Regions from separate parts of the Homo sapiens genome. Here region 1 is linked to region 2. Evidence: fine-mapped expression QTL. Tissue or cell type: whole blood. Region 2 holds a variant in brackets; the other region holds the start of a gene. All regions are shown on one strand. Distances are from middle to middle.

Region 1 (8,111 bases), 29 kb before region 2:
GATGTTGCTATGGAAAGGACCACTTTCTCCTAAGAAAGTCCAATGATACTTATCACCATAAAGAGTGGCATAATGAAAAGAGACCTGAAATAGGGAACAGAAGACCAATAACTGCTCTGCTACCAATGAGCTCTATGCCCCCAAAAGATCTCTTTCCTTCTCTCTGACTTACTTTGCTAATCTGTAAAAAAAGATCATACATACTGATTTTCAAAATCAACTATATTTTCTGAGAATCAGTTGACCTAATACATGTAGAAAAACAAAGTTGTTACAAGTACATTATGTTGCACAAATGCATGTGGTTGCTACCATGTGATTATAGATGTAAATCAGCATGAAATAAGTAACATGTGAAGCATAATAGTTAATCATAGTGGTGAATGTTGTTATTATTACAAATGCAGATCACAAAGAAGAACTGACATCTTACCTGTCTTTAAAGAACATCACTTCTCCCCGAATCGTAGTTATAGCATCAAAGGTTAGCTTACTGTCACACGCTTTTGGGGTTTGTGGGCCGATGGGCTGGACAGGATTTTGGGAACGTCCTAAGGAAAATAAAATACCTAGAGTTAGTTTTGCCTAGTATTAGAAAACTACATAAACAATGAAGACAGCTTCTTCAAGGATATCGCTAATGGCTGTTTTATTTGAAATACATATAAAGACCACCAGGCCCTTGTCCGTAATGTTTTTCCCCATACTCACCATATATGGCTTGGATGCCATCAATGTCATCCTGAGCTAGCTGAACATCACCACTGAAGGTGTAGCTAGGGTACATCAAAGCCCCGATATCAGTAGAATGGGAGAGTCCAAGAGAATGGCCGAGTTCATGAGCTGCAACACGATGTAAGTTGTACTCTAAAAAGGCCAATAAATCAATTTGTAATTATTTGAAAGGTATTCAGTTTTGAGGCATTTAACTAATAAATAATTTACAACTACAAGGACTCATGTTACTATTTTATCAGTGACTTTTGAAATATATGCATGTATATCTTTTTTCCGAAGGCAGAAGGCATGCATTTATTAATAACGAAGAGACATGTTGAAACCTAAACTCTATGATTACATTGATACAATTAAAAGACAAACTCAGCTGACTGAAAGCGCACCACAGATTAATCAATATTATCAATGATTAAATGACACGTACTATTTCACACAGAAGCAAAATGTTCTATTAACATTTAATATTTTTCTTTTTCTTTTTTTCTTTCTTGAGACGGAGTCTTGCTCTGTCACCCAGGCTGGAGGGCAGTGGCATGATCTTGGCTCACTGCAACCTCTGCCTCCTGGGTTCAGGCGGTTCTCCTGCCTCAGCCTCCTGAGTAGCTGAGATTACAGACGTGTGCCACCATGCCTGTCTAATTTTTATATTTTTAGAAGAGACAGGGTTTCACCATATTGGTCAGGCTGGTGTCAAACTCCTGACGTTGTGATCTGCCTGCCTTGGCCTCCCAAAGTGCTGGGATTACAGGCATGAGCCACTGCGCCCAGCCTAATATTTAATATTTTTCTTATTTACAAAACTGATAAATGTTGACTGCTGGAAATTTTGGAAAACACAAAAAGCCTTCCTTTTCTTTAATTTCCACATAAGTTTATGACCGCTGTTAAATTTCACTGTTTTCTTCTAATGAAAAAGTTTCAATGTTGATGCCCACAATTAAAACATCAAAGTTTTCAACAATTTTCTTAATAAAAATTTTAGAGTGGCCTAGTTGTCACTGCTAAGATGTTGTTAGCTAGCAGAAAAGACCGCTCTTTCACTTTTCTAAGTGTATCACTAATTTTCTGAGTGGTAATAGAAAAATATATACTTCTATGAATGCATTCTTTCAACTAAATCAACCAATATTACAATGAAACATGAAGGGGTGGGAGAATTGAGAGAGGCAAATTTGATTGGCTTACCTCTGAAATTGTTGGTCCACCTTTCATCTTCATCAAAATGAGCATCCCCTCCAATACCTGGGCCTGGTTGAAAAGCATGAGCAAGATTTCCTCCAGGTCCATCAAAAGGAGAGTTGTCCCGATGATCTGAAAGAAACAATTCAACAAAGATTCCTTGTGGTTCTTATGTAAGCTAAGCCAGAAGGGCAAGCATTAGCTTTGTTAAGAGGCCAACAGACTTCCATCAACTGTGATGCAGTTTCCCTCTTCGAGCCCATAAAATCAACATTCATCTTAAACAATCAATTCCAGTTGCAAAGCTACGAGATCTAGGGGCAAGGTGAGGTTAAGGTGCTATAAGAAGAACTTACCTCCCCTGACAAAAGATATCATGATGTCTGCTTGACCCTCAGAGACCTTGGTGAATGTCAGAGGTGTGACATTACTCCAGAGTTGGAAGGCTTTCTCAATGGCATGGTCCACATCTGCTCTTGGCAAATCTGGCGTGTAATTTTCAATCCTTAGAATGAAACAAAATAGAGACACATTGGACATGACTTCTTACCACTGTCATGGGAAATAGCTCTCTCACTCTGGCCCTCAGTCTGCCTACCTGTAGGTCAGATGTGTTTGCTCCCAGCGAGGGTTCCCCTCAGTGAGGACAAACTGAGCCACATCAGGCACTCCACATCTGGGCTGCTTCATCACCTTCAGGGTTTCAGCATCTGGTTTCCCAGTCACTTTCAGCCCAAAGAATTCCTGCATTTGCTTCAATTTTTCAACCACTGGGCCACTATTTCTCCGCTTTTCAACTTGCCTCCCATCATTCTTCAGGTTGTAGTATTTTTCCAGGTATTTCTGACAAAAGAAAATTATCGAAACACTGCATGGGAAATCTTTCTCATTATTCTAAAAATTGATGGCATTAAGTTTTAGCCAAAACAGAGAACTGCTTTTAAACCTTGTGTTTAGATTTCGCAGTTGCTTTTATCCTTATTTTTGGTGAGAAATGAAATTTCAGAGTAGAAATGTCCCTACTATTAGTTATTGTGAAGTAAGAACTTCATAGTAGAGCAATTTTTGTAGAGCAAGATTTGCATACTGTTACAAGTCTACAATTTGTGGAGACAAGTTTGGATGTTGTTCCTTTAGTTCACTCTCACCTCCAACTGGAAAAAGAGAGCGTATGCATGGCTAGATACATTTTGGGTGGAGGGTGCTGTTTCTAGCAAAAAAAAAAAAAATCTCTTTATAAGAAACCTATCCTTAAAAAACTCTATTACATTACTGCAGAAAAATACAAACTAAAAATTTACATTATTGTCACATGCAATGCAGCATTTACCTGGACTAAGTCCACATCTTGCTCTTGTGTTTCTAGAGTCGCTGGGAAGCTGTGAGACACCACACCCCAGAACAGCAGCAGCAGCAGTGGAGGAAAGCTGTGCATACTGGCCTTTGTCTTCTTTCTCAGTGCAAGGTAAGTGATGGCTTCCCAGCCTCTTGCTGCTCCAATATCCCAGCTAGGAAGCTCCCTCTGTATATATAGAGTCCTTGCCCTTCCAGAAAGCCAGAGGCTGTCTGACTCATGCTTTATAACATCCTCTTGATTAGCTATGAATAGACTAGGCAATCATTAGAAATGGTGACTCCTAGCAGATTATTTGGAATCACTTGGTGTTGCAATGTCATGATTAACTTCAAACAAGATGTGTGCGAAGGAGACACACTCTGCCATGTAAACAGTGGTTTTCTCCAATTCATTTCTTTCCTATTTGAGAAAGGTTCTTGTTATATACACAGGTCAAAGAGTACTCCATGGTCTTTTTGAAAAAGACTGGTTCTGATGGTCATAAAGTGCTACAGGTTTCTCCACACACCTTGCTCCCAGGGCAGAGGGTGGAATTACTAACACTGCGCACCTGATGGCTGTTCGGCACCTGTACTGACTGAAGTTCAGCTCCCCCAGCACTCACTTTACGGTGGCTCTTCGGGGTTCTCTGAGGTTCCCTTCTGCCTTTGTTAAGCTGCCTGGTACCCTATTGCGATAGCACCATGGCTTCCCTTAATCTTTACTCAGAGCCAGGCATGGTGGCTCAAGCCTATAATCCCAGAATTTCAGGAGGCCGAGGCAGGGGAATCACTTGAGCCCAGGAGTTCAAGATCAGCCTGGGCAACATGGTGAGACCCCATCTCTGTAAAAAACAAACAAACAAACAAACATTTTTTAAAGTTAGCCAAGCATGGAGTCATGCACCTGTAGTCCTAGTCACTGAAGAGGCTGAGGTGGGAGGATCACTTGGGCCTGGGAGGTTGAGGCTGCATTGAGCTGTGATTGTGCCGCTGCACTCCAGCCTAGGCAACAGAGAGGGACCCTGTCTAAAATAAAATTTGAAAAAATTTACTCAGGCCTAGGATTTAAGAGCCTTACCTGAGAAGACCCCTCATCCACAGGCGGAGTATGAGATAACTCCCCACCCCTTGCCCATCATTATCATGGGACAAATAGGATCCTTCCCTGAAACTTGTCTGAATGTACCGGATGATGAAAAGGCTGGAAAGAGACTGAGCGTGACTCTGGGGTCTTATTTTTAATCATACTTGTTTCCCTTGATATGAGTCTATCTTCGCTCCTTGGTGCTAGGCAGCATTTATTTATTCTTTCATGTATGCATTCATTCATATATTTATGCATTCCTCCATTCAAAAGATCTTATTTAGCATCTCCTGCCCATTAAAATAAATACATGGCTCTGTAATGAAAGATGTGTATTCCTGTACTTATGTTCCACATTAAATTGTCTTGGGTACTGGTGACCGGTGTCACCAGTGCTATCTGTAGCATTCCTGGTAAGAAAAGTTGGTTTATCTCTGTAGCTCCCCTACTCATGCCCCACTCTCCTTCCTTGGAAGCATTTATTGAAAACATACAGTGGAGAAACACTGGCCTGTTTTATCACTTCAGCACCTTATGGTGTCTCCCACCTTTCCCACTGTATCAGGTTTGCTTTTCAACACTTTCCTCCCCTTATGGATTCCTGTTTTCTTTCTGCGTCAAGACTGATATCTTACTCATAAACAATACTTCAGTATATCTTGGATTGATTTGAGATAAGTCATATCCTTTCTAATTATTTAACTACAATTTCCTCATCTAAGTGGCATAACATGTGAGTTCAAGAGGGTAAGAAGAATGGGAAGACATTCTCACGAAAAGGAAATCCTCTTCTCAGAGGCATCAGAGGGAGGGTGCGGCAGAGACCAAAGAACACTTGCCACTGAAGTGACTCCAGCACAGACAAAGAAAATAGTGAAAGGGGCTCTTCATATTAGAGGGTGAACATAGACTATGTTTTAAAAGTCAAGGAGTGGCAGATATACTCGACTGTGAGGGAATCTAGTCACTGTGAAGACGTGACAAGCCTAGCTCCACTGAGGCCTGGGAAACAAGGGTGAGTTAATAGGTTAACTCAGGAAAGCAGCATGTGACCATCTGTGATTGGACAGGAAATTGCCTAAGACGTCACCCTGGAAGAGTCTCATACACTGTCCCATCTGGCAAGAGCCTGCACATCCTGCAATGTAGAAGTTTTCAAACTTTTATAAACCTCTGTATCCTTTACTTAAACAAAATCCCTTTTGGAAAGCAAATTTGAAAACCAGGTGAAAACAGAAGTTCTCTGATGGAAGTTGGAAATAGAGCCTTGGAGTCCCCCACAACCCGCCACATCATGCCTGCTTTTTCCTCCCTTCTCTAGCAAAGCTCCCTGCATCTGAGTCCAGAGCTCTCATGCTAAATGCTCATAGTGTTTCATTAAATGTCATAGTTGCTGACGTGGATTGGAAACTGGTTGCTTGAAACATCTTTTCGTTAATTTTTTTTCCTAAAATAAACGAAAAAAATTAAATTAAGTTTTGGTTAAGCAGCCAGCCTAGATTCACATGGCCCTGAATCTTGGAATTTCCAGTTAGGTATTCATGGAAGATCGTCTAATACAACATATGTAACTTTGCAGCTGGTGCTAGCATATGATTTATTTGAGAGTAAAAAAGAAAACAAAAATTTAGAACAGAAAGCTGGGGATTAAATCATACCAAATCCTAGCAATGCCTAAACTTAGCATAGTTTCCAAGAAGTTCAGAACATGTTAAAGTTGTATTTGCTCTTCACATCCATACTATTTGTTTCCTCTGGGAGCATCTTCTTCCCCCATAATTCTCTTTTAAATGTAATTTTCTGAAATTATTCCTTTACCCCTTATGACAAGCATAAGAGGGCTCTCGTGTGGCTGTGTCAGCTGACTCCGGACTATTTCCAGGCAGCCAGATTATTTCCGTGGTTTTCTTGGTTGCTTCATGCTGGCTGCTCTGTGAAAGGCCTCAAACATATTTGTATTTTTCCATATTAAACTTAGTCTTGAAATTTCAATCTTGCTTCATATTTTTTTATGCTGGGGAATTCAGCCGTTTTAATTTTGTAACTCCATTTGAGTGTCAGATATTTTTTCTATTTTTTTGTCCTGCAAGTCTTGAAATGGTCTTTAGCCAGAAACATTAAGTATTTAATGCTATTTTGTTGTGAGAGTTACACGTGGGAAAAATTTGCCCCACGGTCTGTATTCTTCCTACATATGGCCATGCAGTAGCTTTATGGATAACCATTGACCAGACACTTAACAGACACTTGGTACACACTGGTTCCGTCAGTCCTCATGGTTACCTTCTGGGTAGAAATGATTGATCAATTAACCCCAAGTCCCAGGGCACACAGCAGAGCGGTAGTCACTCGTTGAACACAGTTCTGTGCCACTGCAGTCCAGACATAACACATACATACTCTGGGGATAGAAATCTTGCTTCCCTAACAGAGAGAAAGTGTCTGGAGACACGAGGACTGTCACATTAACTCCCTCAAGTCCACAATAATGTCTCCATGCCACCACCCGGTCCCACAGGCCTGAAAGAATCCTCCCCTTCAAGCTGTCACTCAATCTCTCTTATTTCCCTTATCAAACTTGTTGAATTTATAGTTTATACTACCTCAACATAGTAGGTGTCTGCAAATGATTGTTACATGAGTTAATAAATGAATAGATCAATGAAGAAATAGATACTTAAATGACACTTAAATAAAGGGTCTATTTCTCATTAGGCTGAGTTGTTTATAAGAAGTCTTATGCCCATGACTTTTACTCTCCTAAGACTAAAGTTTTTAAAATTACCATGGGAAGAATTTGGATATATCAACTGACTGGACATTCAATTAACTAATTTATTTATTTAGAGACAAGGTCTCCCTCTGTCGCTTAGGCTGGAGTGTAGGGACCTCAAACTCTTGGGCTTAAGCAATCTTCCTGCCTCAGACTCCCAAGTAGCTAGAACTACAGATGTGCACCACCATGTCCCACTGATTTTTAAGATTTTTTGTAGAGATGAGGTCTCACTATGTTGGCCAGGCTAGTCTCAAACTCCTGGCCTCAAGCAGTTCTCTCACCTCGGCCTCCCAGAGTGTTGGGATTATAGGTGTGAGCCACCACACTCAGCCTTACTGGAGATTTTATATGAAGCATAGCACATTTATTTTTGGTGATTTGCATGCCATGCTACAAGCATTTAGTATCAGATTATTTTGAGCATTTTATTAATTTGTTTGTCAATAATATTTTCTTATCTGCATGGTTTATTAAACACTGTGGAAAATGCTTATAGTTAGCACATTTGTGAAACAGATTTTTGCAGCTATAGCTCCTTTTAAAGGAAATTCAAACCAAGAGACTTTCTGGGGATGAGTGCTACTCATACCATAGCTCAGTTCAGCCCTGTCAAAACCGTCCTTTCCCAGCTCTTACATCTGTGAATGTGAATTTGAGATGGATTTGAAATATGTGAGGAAGCTTCCTGTGAGATTTTGATCATGTGCCCAGACTATGACTTGCTTGTTTGGAGTCTGTGACATACACACGTGTGTGGCCTGCAGAGCTTTTAGTCCATGATTCAGAATTCAAACTATATTCCATTGTTTCAGAATTTTTCTGTTTTTCACAAAGTGAAATGTTCTCTAAGCCTGCTACCCAGTTCTTTTTAATTACTCTTAACTACTTATGCCTCAGCCATAATTCTTTCTTTATTTTTTTATTATTATACTTTTTGAGGCAGAGTCTTGCTCTGTTGCCCAGGCTGGAATGCAGTGGCATAACCATGGCTCATTG
Region 2 (8,111 bases):
CTGTTCTCATGCTAGTGAATAAGTCTCACAAGATCTGATGGTTTTAAAAAGGGGAGTTTCCCTGCACAAGCTCTCTTTGCCTGCTGCCATCCATATAAGACATGACTGCTCCTCCTAAGCTTCTGCCATGATTGTGAGTTCTCCTCAGCCATGTGCAACTGTAAGTCCATTAAACCTCTTTCTTTTGTAAATTGCCCAGTCTTGGGTATGTCTTTATCAGCAGCATGAATATGAACTAATACACTGATTTATCAAAGCTCTTAGAAGTGCTTGGCATATAATGAGTGCTTAGTGAATATTGTCGAAAGAATGAATGAATGAAAAAGCAAATTAATATCTCCTACCCTGTCTGCTCTTTATGTATCTCCATATCAGTGGTATAATTCTCAATTGTGAGCTCCCGAAAGGTAGAAAGCATTTTTGTCCTTTCTTAGCAGAGCAGGATTTTGACCTAAATTTCTGCAAACTATAGTCTTATGGTTATGACTCTTTTTGTAAGTTGATCACTCATTCACAAGGATGTAATTTGCATCTGATTAATCACAAGACTGATGTGGTCTCAGAACATTGAGAAAAAGACTACTTCATCTACCTGACAGTCAAAGGGTAACACATTAGGACTTGAGAGATAATAAATTCAAAGGAAGTTCACACACAGAAAAATTTAAGATTAAATTGTCATTTTCAGATAAATTTGTTAGGGATATTGGTTCAGTATTCTGCAGCAGATGCATAAAATATTTCCATGCCTTTAAGAATCCATTTGTAGTCTCAGATACCACATGTGTTCCAGGAGTGTAGATGTCCTGCACAGTACTCTTTTATGAGTCACTCAAGCTTCTCCTGTGGCATCAGATTTTGCAGTGATTTTGTAATGGACATTTCCTAATTGAGAAATTATCAGCTATTTTTGAATTATGAAATGGCTACATTACTTAGAAATAGGCCCTTGGGTGCACATGAGATATTTCATTACCAGGCGTAAGATTTATTTTATTAATAGAAAAATAATATAAAATGTCACTTAAAGGATCTTATCAAAATTATGAACCTTCCACTTCTGAATGTCTGTATTATACATCCATTCCTAGGTCACCTAAACTTACCCCTTTGACTCAACCTGCTACAAAGAGCCAACCACTTCCTCTACTCCAGCTGTTTCTTTATTCCAACTCTTGCCCTATTATGTCACTCAGTCTGTTCTTTGCTCTATCTCTTTTGCTCTTAATCACATTTATAGGCTGTATTAGTTCATTCTTATGCTGCTAATAAAGACATACCCAAGACTGGGAAATTTATAAAGGAAAGAGTTTTAATGGACGCATAATTCCATATGGCTGAGGAGGATTTACAATCATGGCAGAGGGCAAAGGAGGGGCAAAGGCTTGTCTTACATGGTGGCAAGCAAGAGGGCATGTGTAAGGGAAGTACTCTTTATAAAACCATCAGATCTCATGAGACTTATGCACTGTCGTGAGAATAGCATGGGAAAAACTCACCTCCATGATTCAGTTACCTCCCAGTGAGTCCCTCTCACAACACATGTGGATTATGGGAGCTACAATTCAAGTTGAGATTTGGGTGGGGACACAGCCATACCATATCATTCCACCCCTGGCCCCTCCCAAATCTCATGTCCTCACATTTCAAAACTAATCATGCCTTCCCAACAGTCCCCCAAAGTCTGAACTCATTTCAGCATTAACTCAAAAGTCCACAGTCCAAAGTCTCATCTAAGACAGGCAAGTCCCTTCTGCCAAAAGCAAGTTAGTTACTTCCTAGATACAATGTGGGTACCAGGCATTGGGTAAATATACCTGCTCCAAATGGGAAAAATTGGCCAAAACAAAGGGGCTACAGTCCCCTGGAAAGTCTAAAATCCAACAGGGCAGTCATTAAACCTTAAAGTTACAAAATGATCTCCTTTAACTCCATGTCTCACATCCAGGTCATGCTGATGCAAGAGGTGGGCTCCCACAGCCTTGGGCAGCTCTGCCTCTGTGGCTTTGCAGGGTATGGCCCCCATTTTTGCTGCTTTCACTGGCTGACATTGAGTGTGGCTTTTCCAGGTGCACAGTGCAAACTGTCATTGGATCTACCATTCTGGGGTCTGCAGGACAGTGGGCCTCTTCTCACAGCTCCACTAAGCAGTGTCCCAGTGGGGACTCTTTGTGGGTGCTCCAACCCCACATTTCACTTCCACACTGCCCTAGAGAGTTTCTCCATGAGGGCTCCACCCCTGCAGCAAACTTCTTGCCTGGACATCCAGGCATTTCCATGCATCTTCTGAAATCTAGGCAGAGATTCCCAAATCTCAATTCTTGACTTCTCTGTACCCACAGGCCCAACACTACTTGGAAGTTTCCAAGGCTTGGGGCTTGCACCCTCTGAAGCAATTGCCTGAGCTGTATGTTGGCCCTTTTTAGCTACAGCTGGAGTGGCTGGGACGCACGGCACCAAGTCCCAAGGCTGTGCACAGCAAAGGGGGGGTCCTGGCCCTGGCCCGCAGAACCATTTTTCCCTCCCAGGCCTCTGGGCCTGTGATGGGAAGGGCTGCCATGAAGGTCTCTGACATGCCCTGGAGACATTTTCCCCATTGTCTTGGTGATTAACATTTGGCTCCTTGTTTTATATAAGTTTCTGCAACAGGTATGAATTTCTCCTCAGAAAAAAAGTTTTTCTCTCCTATCTCATTGTCAGGCTGCAAATTTTCAAAACTTTTATATCCCATCACCTCTTGAATGCTTAGCCACTTAGAAATTTGTTCCCCTAGATACCCTAAATCATCTCTCCTAAGTTCAAAATTCCACACACCTGTAGGGCAAGGGCAAAATGCCACCAGTCTCTTTGCATAGCAAGAGTGACCTGGCCAGGTGCAGTGGCTCATGCCTGTAATCCCAGCACTTTGGGAGGCCAAGGCGGGCAGATCATGAGGTCAGATTGAGACCATCTTGGCTAACAAGGTGAAACCCTGTCTCTACTAAAAATACAAAAAATTAGCTAGGCACGGTGGCAGGTGCCTGTAGTCCCAGCTACTTGGGAGGCTGAGGCAGGAGAATGGCGTGAACCCAGGAGGTGGAGCTTGCAGTGAGCC[G/A]AGATTGCGCCACTGCAGTCCAGCCTGGGTGACAGAGCTAGACTCCTTCTCAGAAAAATAAATAAAAGAGTGGCCTCCAGTTCCCAACAGGATCCTCATCTCTATCTGAGACAACCTCAGCATCGACCTTTTTGTCCAAATCACTGCCAGCATTTTGGTCAAAGCCATTCAACAAGTCTCTAGGAAGTTCCAAATTTCCCACACCTTCCTGTCTTCTAAGCCCTCTGAGTCTCTAGGAAGTTTCAAACTTTTCCACATTTTCATATCTTCTGAGCCCTCCAAACTGTTCCAACCTAGCCTGTTACCCAGTTCCAAAGTCACTTCCACATTTTCGGGTATCTTTACAGTAGCACCCCACTCTACTGATACCAACTTACTGTATTAGTCTGTTCTCACACTGCTAATAAAGACATACCCAAGACTGGGTAATTTATAAAGGAAAGAAGTTTGATAGACTGACAGTTCCACATGACTGAGGAGGCCTCACAATCATGGCAGAAGGCAAAGGAGGAGCAAAGGCACATGTTACATGGTGGCAGGCAAGAGAGCGTGCATAAGGGAATTGCTCTTTATAAAACCATCAGATCTTGTGAGCCTTACTCACTCTCATGTGAACAACACAGGAAAAACTCACCCCCTTGATTCAGTTACCTCCCAACAGGTCCTTTCCATGATACATGTGGATTATGGGAGCAACAACTCAAGATAAGATTTGGGTGGGGATACAGCCACACCATATCATAGGTTAATTCATGTTAACTTAAAGAATAGAGAGGCAGCAAAGTGGATGTAACATAAGCTTGGTGTCAGACTAGATGCATTAGATATCTGGCTCTGCCATTTACTATCTGTATGACCTTGAGGATGTTGTGCAATCTCTCTATACATCCCTATATTTGTAAAAAAGTTTAATAATATCTTCTTCATAGGTGAGAATTAAATGAGATAGTATATACAAAGTATTTGTTTCCCTTCTGTGTTAAGATAGCAATAGTAATATACGTTAGCCTTTCAATTGGATTTGCTAATGTCTAAGGGGGCCTTTTTTGCATGCCTATTAATACTTAGAGTTTTACTTTTATTATAATAATACTCCATCTATTAAAGAGTTAAATCCTAAGTTTTCTTAATATTTTAAGTTCAGCTTTCTAATCTTGTTTATTAATCTAGTATATTTATATAAAAATAAGTACAATCATTTTCACTAGCTTTGATTAATATTTATTGATTTGTACAGTAAAAATAATAAATTAACCTTAATCATTTAATGCTATTTGAATTCATAAGTAATATTTTCATCAACACTTCAAATCATAATTACAATTTCAATGTAGGTAATTTTTTCAGATAATGCAAGTCTATTATGCAGACTTAAAACCCAACAAGCCAGATATTTCTAAACACTTAAGTAATGCTTAGTAATCTAATAAATCAATCAATTGACTCACTTAACTCAAATTCTCATACACTTTGCAAACAACTTAAAAACAGAAAATATTCAAAATAGCAGTGACTGCAAAACATAACACAGCATAATAACATTCCTTAAACAAAAGTCTCACTTGTATTCATTCTCTATTAAATATATATTATACATAACATACATTATATATGATCTACATTGTATAAATATGTAATACACATAAATGTTATATAGTATATATACATTATATACAATATACATTGTGTATAATAAACATGTACATTATGCATAATATACATTATGTACATTATGCATAATATACATTTATACAAGTATATATACATTTATACACGTATATATGTATATATACATTTTTATACACATATATATGTATATATACATTTTTATACACATATATATGTATATATACACGTTTTTATACACGTATATATGTATATATACACGTTTTTATACACGTATATATGTATATACACGTTTTTATACACGTATATATGTATATACACGTTTTTATACACGTATATATGTATATACACGTATATATGTATATACACGTTTTTATACACGTATATATACATGTATATATAATATACATACATAATATAATGTATATTATGCATAATGTAATAGAGTTTCATATATTATATTAGATTACATTGTAGAATATAATATATTATGTATAATATACATTACATACATTATGTATAATATACATTACATACATTATGTATAATATACATTATATATAATGTACATACATATATTCCTTCCAGAAGTAGCTAATTTGCTCCCAACCAAAGAAAAGATAATTACTATTTTAGGTCCGCTACAGCCACTAAAGTTTTACACACAGATTATTATCAGTGATTATAAACCAAGGCAAAGGGTGTTTGTGCTGCTTCCAGAATGATTCTACCCAAATCCCAGGTGGTTAGCAAGCTGGACTTTTTCTCATAATTAAACCCTGCCAACTTCTTCAATTTTACAGAAAATTGCTTTCACAAGTTATTCCTGCCAGATCTGAGTAGCTTCAATGCACTCTTCCCACAGTGCTCCTTCACAATAGGATCACGGCTAATCTCCATATTGCTTGATTTGTGATAATAGGCTTCTTAAATGCTTCTGTCATTATAACCCATCTGCTCACTAACTGGTGAGATTCTGTACTTTATCGTTTATGAACGTTCTTATTTGTGTCAAACCCATATTTCTGTTGGTTTATTGCTGAGTCCAAACCAGATTCCCAGCTTCTGCTTTCCTCCCCTGCCCCCCAGTCTAGTGTCCCTCCCCCAGTCTAGTGTCCCTCCCCCAGTCTAGTGTCACTGCATGATTTCCTGTAAATGCAAACGTACTCCAATAAGCCTGCCTGAAGCAAGAGGAATTGAGCCAGCTATCAAACATCATTCTGGGATTCAGCATCAGTCACCATTAGAGCTGGTCTTGTCCCGACATGGGCTACATGTCTGGTCCCTGGGGCTTAGCCTCTGGTCGGTGTCAAATTCAGGTGAAAGCCTTGTCAGCACAAAAATACATACCTGGAACAAACAAACATTTCTGGAACAAGATTGCTTGGGGAAATTTACAGACGAGTAGCTGGTGTGAGGTTCTCCATTGTTCATTACAATTTAGGACAGCACAAAGAAATTTAGCAGGGCTAGATATCAGACTCAAAAGAACCCCGGCCCTTGGGCTGTGGGGATTTTAAACTGCAGAATTGAGGAAGAACCAGCCCCAATGTGGTCATGCCATATGACACTGCAGAACCCCTAGTTCGGAATGGAGTCAAAACTGAAAAGATAAGGCAACCAGGCTGATTTATTGTCTGGGTCCCTAGACAAAATAAGAACATGATCTTTGAATCTAGAAGGATATGAAATTGGATCCTGGCTATGTACTTGCTATGTGATTATGGCAATGCTACTGAATTACTCTAAACTTATATTTCTGCATTATTGAAATCAACTACCAGCCTAACAGTTAAGACATGCATAAGAACTATGAATCAGGTCTGATAGCACAGAGAAAGTATTTTCCACTTCCTTCTCAGCACAACATTTCCTAAGAATTATTTGCATCTGTTATTTCGACTTTCTCACATTCCAGTTTCTCTTTGTAGTAGATGGACAGAGATTGGTGACTCAATGTCTTTCCTTCACCTCACTGTGTAACAAAAACATGACTGCAGTGAAATTGATTGATCCTCCCTGCCATGGTGATTGGTCTAGGATGACCATATGGTAAGGGATGGTCCAAACAGGAGGACACTCAGAACTGTCCTTTCGTGTTTGAAGGTGGTGATTTAAGAAGGTGCGTTGCCTGGACACTAAACAACATAGCTGTGTTGCTGCCGTGAGGAAAGCCAGCCTCAAGGTAAAACTGACACAAGGACAGAACCAAGATAACCGCAAAGTGATGGAGCCAGAACTCTGATCGCACCGAAACTAAAACCTGTCTTAGTGCTGTACTTTTATGTAATATGAACCAGAAAATTCCTTATTTTTAAATCAGTTGAGATTTTCTGCTACCTATAGCCAAAAACACCCTAACTTGCCAACTTTTCTACCAGCTTCAATCAGAATTCAGCTCCATCACTTCACCAACGCTGCTGTTGTAAAGAGCATCAGTGGCCCTCATGTTGGAGAATCCAACAAATAGTTTTCCTGCTCCTGTATCTCTGCTCAGCCTTTGAAGATTAGATTTTCCATCCAATATGCAAGTGTGCTTAAGGATATTCACTGTAGCGTTGGATATCACAGCAAAATATTAAAAAATAGGCTACTGATACACTGAATACTGAAAATAATCTACTGATGCACACAATTTTATTTCATTTATGTTTTATTATTTTTATCTTAAATATATTTTAATTTTAAATATTATATAAATATATTCAAATGTTATAAAATTATTTTCTTTTAATATTTACACTTATTTCAAACTAATTTTATTTTTTGTTACTTTAACATTTTATTTAGTTGGTTTTTGCATTTATTTAATGTATAAATGTATTTATTGAATCACCAATAGGGGACTGAATAAGCTGCGTATTTCTTCCTTTGAGCGCAGCTGGTGCAATAAACAGGAGCTCGCAGAGTCCCGTGGCCGCGGAGGGGCGCCAGACTCCGGGGAAGAGCCAGAGCGAGGTCCGACGAATCGGGCTCTGCTGGCGACCAGCCCCCTTCCTTTCCTCCCTGGTGGGGCTGGCGGTGGGTGACCACGGCCGCATCTGGGAGGCGACTCTTCGGATTCAAGATGACCAACAAAAAACCCTCTTCCCCAAAGGGTTAGACTGAGCGAAACTTCAAACGGATGGCAGGAGATGAATGAATTCTAAAATGGAAACAATATGAAACACATGCGCAAGCTTTGGAGGCAAGAACGCTGACCTCAACCTCAGTGAAAACTAAAGCAAAAGCAGCAAGAGTCTGCGCGGGGCAAACGTCCTTGCGATGCGACTAGCAGACAAGAGGCAGGAGATGCGAGGCGTCCTACCCGAATTTAGTACCTCCAGCAAATCTGTGGCCCAGCGTGGCCCGATCAACAATGGTAGACCGAGCCATCAACCTGTTTTCCTAA

Evidence for each region. PIP is the estimated chance that this variant, and not a neighbour inherited with it, causes the effect.
Region 1: it holds the start of MMP1, and the variant in region 2 is fine-mapped to the expression of MMP1 in whole blood (INTERVAL, PIP 0.98).

What each region holds. Positions count from the first base shown.
Region 1 is chr11:102,794,741-102,802,851 of GRCh38, forward strand. MMP1 (matrix metallopeptidase 1) reads right to left here and starts at 3,420. Exons shown (of 10, transcript NM_002421.4): 1 at 3,248-3,420; 2 at 2,516-2,760; 3 at 2,274-2,422; 4 at 1,924-2,049; 5 at 712-867; 6 at 434-551. The coding sequence starts at 3,352. It also overlaps the pseudogene WTAPP1.
Region 2 is chr11:102,823,906-102,832,016 of GRCh38, forward strand. It overlaps the pseudogene WTAPP1. Among named protein-coding and RNA genes, the nearest start is that of MMP3, 16 kb to the right of the region's middle. The variant G/A (reference allele first, on the strand shown) is at 3,095.